2 separate regions of the Homo sapiens genome follow, and region 2 is linked to region 1. Evidence: fine-mapped expression QTL. A gene starts in region 1. The other region holds a variant in brackets. All regions are shown on one strand. Distances are from middle to middle.

Region 1 (2,912 bases):
CCAGAAGGGCCCTTGGGCACTTGGGCAATGTCAGGGGGCTCAGGTGCATCTTCCTAGACACGAAACGAAGAGGAAAGCGGAGGCAGCAGCGGGGGCCACAGGCTCCCATGCAGCAGCTCGGAGCTGTGCTGTGCTTCGCTGGCGGCCATCCGTGATACGTGTGACACCGTGGGGCCCTGGCCCTGGGACCTGCCATGCAGCCTTGAGATCTCATCCAAGAAGCCCCCAGACCCCAAGGTTCAGGCCTGGCGGGGCAGCAGAACGCCTTTGGAGCTCAGCTCAGCCCTACAAACAGGACCAACGCCCACACCAAGGCCAGAGAGGGCTACCAAGTTTCACCTGGCCCAGCTTCCGGCAGCCCCCAACCAGGCCACTACCCTCACCTGAACACCGCGGTCCATCACCAAGCCCCACCCACTTCTGCCAGCCCTGCCCCCACAAGGACCCACCTCTCGCATGCAAGCCCCGCCCCCAAGGCCCAGCTCACCTGCAGCCCCGCCCCACCAGGCTCCACCCCATCGCCTGCAAGCCCCATCCCCAAGGCCCAGCTCACTTGCATCCCCGCCCACTAGGCTCCACCCTGTCACCTGCAAGCCCCGCCCCCAAGGCTCAGCTCACTTGCAATCCCCTCTCCCACTGGTCTCCACTCCTCACCTGCAAAGAGCCACCCCTCGCTAAGCCCCTCCCATCACTTGCACAGCCCCACCCAACACAGCACGCCATTCCAGGAGCCCCTCTTTTCACCAGCGCAGCCCCGCCCTTCACCAGGCCCCACTTCATCTGCATACACACGCCTCTCGCCACGCCCCACTTCTCGCCTGCCCACTTCCCCCTCCTATCATCTGTCCACATCCTGCTGCTGGCCGAACCCCGCCCCTTTCGGCAAGACGGCCCCGCCCCTTTCTACCCGTACCACGCCCCTCGCCTTGCCCGCCTCCTTCGGCACGTCGGCCCCGCCCCTCCCGCCCATCTCCGTCCGCACCGCCCTCCCGCCCGTCCCAGAGCAGTGGAGGCCTACCCTTTTCACCTACAGCCTATCGCAGAGGACGTCGCTGTTCGCGTTGACCAATAGGAGTGGTAGCTGTCACGGCAAGCCCCGCCCCGCGCCCTGCGTCGGGTTAAGAGGGGGTTCCTCGCCAGCCAGGTGCTCGTCATGCGCAATGTGGCGCTGCGGCGGGCGGCAGGGCCTGTGTGTGCTGAGGCGGCTGAGCGGCGGGTGAGACGCTGCGACGGGAGGCGCTCGGCGCGCTGGTACCCGGGAGGGGAGGGTCCAGGGCAGGCCGGAGGCGTAGGGGTCCTCGTCCCTGCGCCCGGGGCTGGCAGCTCCCCAAGCTGTGGGCGTCCCGCACCCCGAGCCCTTCCTGGAGCTCCCGCATCCGAGGCTCCGAGGCCGGAGGACCTCGGAGCTCCTTCCTACTCCCAGGGGCGATGCCCCGGGCTGGGGGCCGGGCCTGCCCGCGGCGCTCCCGGCGGGGCCCTCCATTAGCGTGGGCTTTAACGGGGGTAGTAAATGGGGTCGGCATTTGCGGTTCTCGCTGACAGCTTTGCTCCTAGTTCATTTTTGTTGGGAGGCCGAGTCCTTAAGAGACCCGAGGCGCCCACAGCCCATACTTAAAGTCTCGCTGTGTTCAGAGAACTGACGCCTCCCGGAATTGAACTGTTTTGTTTTTTTAATGACTCAATTTATGGGGAAAAAAATGACGAAGCAGTTTAGTGTTCATGGTAATCCACGAGCCCGTGTTTAATATAAGGTAATAGTTCAGCGCTGCCGGCCCAGGCCGGGAGGCACGGGGCGTCCGTGGCATGAGTTCGGCCTGGCCTTACCGCTCAGGAGTTTCCTATCATGTCCTTGATAAGTAACTTCTTAAAACGCTTCTGTCCCATAATTCTGAAATTTGCTAAATCAGTAAGCAAATGTTGGTTATAGCATATCTTCATAATATTGCCAGTGACTGAATAGGTTTTTTCTTCCTGTACATATTATCTTTAAAATAAATATTTCGGTGGGATACATTAATGTAGAAAATCCCATACGACATATAATACAATTGGAGAGAATAATAATTACGTGTTTTTTAAGAGCAGGGATCTTGCTCTGTTTCCCAGGCTGGTTTGATCCCCCTCCTCAGCCTCTCGCATTGCGGGGTTACAGGTGTGAGCCATCTCATTCAGGTGAGAATAATTATTAGAAATAGGTTGGGCGCGGTGGCTCACACCTGTAATCCCAGCATGTTGGGAGGCCAAGGCGGGCAGACCACTTGAGGTCAGGAGTTCAAGACCAGCCTGGCCGACATGGTGAAACTGTCTCTACTAAAAATACAAAAATTAGCTGGGCGTAGTAGTGAGCACTTGTAGTCCCAGCCACTCAGGAGGCTGAGACAGAATTGCTTGAACCCGGGAGGTGGAGGTTGCAGTGAGTCGAGATTGCACCGCTGCACTCCAGCCTGGGCAACAGAGTGAGATCTGTCTCAAAAAAGAAAATTAGTGTCCCTGTGACCAAGTTGAAGATTCCCCTAACTGCTCGTAACTCTCTCCCTCCCTCTTAGATTATCACGGTCATAACATACAGAAATGTCCTTGCTTTTTTTTTTTTTAATATTTTACCATTTTTATGCGTTCTGACAATGTCTTGTTACCTATTTGAATAATACCTGTTTAGGATAATACTGTATCATGTGTATCTTTTGTTTCACGTTATGTGACCCATATCTTTGTTACATGCCACTGTAGGCCCTTATATTGGTAAGGTTTTTTTTTTTTTTTTTTTTTTTTTTTTTTTTTTTTTAATTGAACGATTAGTCCGCACTTTATCCATTCTCTGTCGATACACCTCCGGGTGAGTTGAGTTTGGGACTGTCAGGGTTCGTGCTGACATTTTTGTCTGTGAGTGCTGGGGCCGCAGTGTAAGGTGT
Region 2 (2,912 bases), 25 kb after region 1:
TGGGGAAGGGGGCACATGAACTCTCGAGGGCGAAGGCCAGAGTGCACCTGCTTATGACCTTCGAAGTGTAGAGAGGTTGGCAAAGCCGCAGTTATTGAATTAATGGAAGCAACTTGTAACTCAAGATGCACGATTTTAAAAATGATTCAGTAAAGACTGACTTGTAATCGGGGCGATGCTTCTCTGCTGTGTCAGGCTGGGCTGCGGCCTTCTTGACTACCGGGAGCAGGCTCAGCAGATAGAATTGAAGACCGGAGGGATGAGTGCTTCTCCCCACGTGCTCCCCGACGACTCACACATGGACACCTACGAGCAGGTAGCCTGGTACCGTCAGACGACTGCTGCGGTGGGAAGCTTTTCTCCAGTGTCTGTCACTGTTCGATTCGGCCCTAATTCCTTTCTTCTGTGTTTTCTTTGGTTCAGGGTGTGCTTTTCTCCTCTCTCTGCCTGGATCGAAACCTGCCAGACATGATGCAGCTATGGAGTGAAATATTTAACAAGTAACTTTATTTGCAAGAGTTGTCCATTCTTGGGGTGTACTAGAGATCTTTGTTTGAAGTACTTTAAAGGAGACAGTTTTACTCGTGTGTGTTGTTGTTTTCCAAGTCTGACTTTTACTTGTAGTTCATATGGACTTATAAAATTTCTTTGGTTGTTAAAGTACTCTGAAAACTTAATCAACTTTCCATGATACTGAAGGGACGTGAGGAATGGGTCTCCAGGAATTTTTTCTTCTCCTTTTTCCATAGCCCGTGCTTTGAAGAAGAGGAGCACTTCAAGGTGCTGGTGAAGATGACCGCCCAGGAGCTCGCCAATGGAATTCCTGACTCTGGGCACCTGTACGCATCCATCAGGGCAGGCCGGACCCTCACGCCCGCAGGGGACCTGCAGGAGACCTTCAGCGGGATGGATCAGGTGGGAAGCTTGGAAGGAACCTCTATTACTCCGGTTTAGCCACATATTCCAGAGTTACTAATTTCTTTGGGAATACATTAATTTATGTCCCAGAAATGCTAACTTTCTAACTGACTAAATATGGGGAAGAATTGGTTGGTTGGTTTTGACTCATCTTCCTCTTTGTACCACCCTGCATCCCAGTTCCAGCCCTGCCCAAGCCGTGCACTCGCACACATAACCCCTGCCCAAGCAGGGTTCTGATGTCACAGGTGCTTGGTTCAGACTCAGCGGGTCTGTTGTAGCCTCTGCCTCTCTCTGAGCGAGTTTCCTCTGGCTTAGGTGCGGCTGATGAAGAGGATTGCAGAAATGACAGATATCAAACCCATCCTGAGGAAGCTCCC[G/A]CGTATCAAGAAACACTTGTTAAATGGTGATAATATGAGGTGCATGTGTGATTTGTTTCTAAATATTTTATGATTCATTCTATTAAGTATAGTTTTTAGGTATTTCTTACTTGTAGAAACTTCAAGATAGAGTGCTTGGTAAAGGTTATAGAATTTATTGTAAATGTCAAGTGTTCTAACAAACTAAGAAAATATTTTAAGCCTATTAAAAGTTGTAGGAGATGGGGAAGAAAGCAGGCTAATTTTGTGCTAGAAGTGCAAATAGATTGAGGGCAAGTAGTTATATTGCTTCCAAAAGCACATGGTCCGTAACTGAGGTATCTGTAAAGGTGAGCTTGCTGAAGACCAGAGTAAAAGTGCAGTTTCTTATAAAATTATGTGATGCTTTGAGGAAACATCTGGCAGCTCAGTCCTATACCTTCAGTTGGCCTTATGCCCTCAGATGTGTGAGCATGAATAAAGTTTAAAAATGATTGTTTATTTTCAGCATCTTATTGTCAGTGACATTGATGTATTCATCAGTACTTAACAAGAAAATGTTTGCTGAAGTCACTTGTCCTTCTTCACACAGAGTCCTGATGCCTTTCCCCAGTCATGTCCTGAGAATCCCTGGCAGATTCTACAGGGCGGTCTGTGGGTGGCCAGAGGTGAAGCCTGGCGATCAGGGTCTCTTGGCATTGGGCTCAGGCAGGCCTGGCTTCTGGTGCCGCCGGGTCAGCACTCACACTCGCTCCCAGGCGGTCCTGGGCAGCTGACCCACTTGCGTCTTCTGCTTCCTCCTCCATAAAACCTTCCTTTGCAGGTTTATCGTAAGGAATAAAAGAAAGAATATCTGCAAGGCAGCATACATGCCTGGGATATAGTTAGTATTAATATAATGGTACCTGCTGTTACTTTAACTAGAATAAGTTCAGGATTTACAGCTGAAAGGAAAAAATATACACTCTGTCAATATACTGTAGAGTTCAAGTAGCTTTTATATGATAGTAGTATTTGCAATTCTGTGGAATTTGGAAGAGTTCTATTTTCATGTAACTTTGAGAGCATGGTATTTTTTTGCAGTTTATAATGTTCTGCTTTAACAACCAGTTCACATTTTCAAATTGATGACTTCTGGACAGTAATTTTAAAAGTTGTCAGTGTTTTGATAGTGTAATTCCGAAGGCACGGTTAGCAGATCTTAATAGTCTCTGTATTTTCTTTGCTCTTCAGAAGAACTAGAGTTTAGAGTCACAGGCTCCGCGTATGGACGGCTTCATTAGCTGCCACATTGAACTGTGCGGAAATCTCTTGATAACCTGAAGCACTGAAGAGCAGGGAGGCGGCCGTGGCATTTCCACATTTGGCTGCTGTTTAACACTCTGAACAGTATTTTCTATAAAAACAACATTATTGAGTTATACAAAATGTGATGAATTACTAAAACTGTTTTTTCTAACAGTGGTTTTATGTATACATAATTTTTCAAACAGGTGTTCAGTGAATGCGACTCCTCAGCAGATGCCTCAGACAGAAAAAGCGGTCGAAGACTTCCTTAGAAGCATCGGTCGGAGTAAAAAGGAACGGAGGCCTGTGCGCCCACACACGGTCGAGGTATGCACTGGTGGTGCTGGC

The links. PIP is the estimated chance that this variant, and not a neighbour inherited with it, causes the effect.
Region 2: its variant is fine-mapped to the expression of PITRM1 in esophagus muscle (GTEx, PIP above 0.99). The same link has a PIP of 0.9 or more in uterus.

What each region holds. Positions count from the first base shown.
Region 1 is chr10:3,171,021-3,173,932 of GRCh38, reverse strand. PITRM1 (pitrilysin metallopeptidase 1) reads left to right here and starts at 1,151. Exons shown (of 27, transcript NM_014889.4): 1 at 1,151-1,216. The coding sequence starts at 1,161. RefSeq lists an enhancer at 1-138 and silencers at 337-496, 787-1,626.
Region 2 is chr10:3,145,575-3,148,486 of GRCh38, reverse strand. PITRM1 (pitrilysin metallopeptidase 1) reads left to right here. Exons shown (of 27, transcript NM_014889.4): 17 at 196-316; 18 at 424-500; 19 at 750-915; 20 at 1,237-1,337; 21 at 2,771-2,891. It overlaps PITRM1-AS1 (PITRM1 antisense RNA 1), which reads right to left. Exons shown (of 4, transcript NR_038284.1): 4 at 1-2,912. Among named protein-coding and RNA genes, the nearest start is that of PITRM1-AS1, 5.4 kb to the right of the region's middle. The variant G/A (reference allele first, on the strand shown) is at 1,299.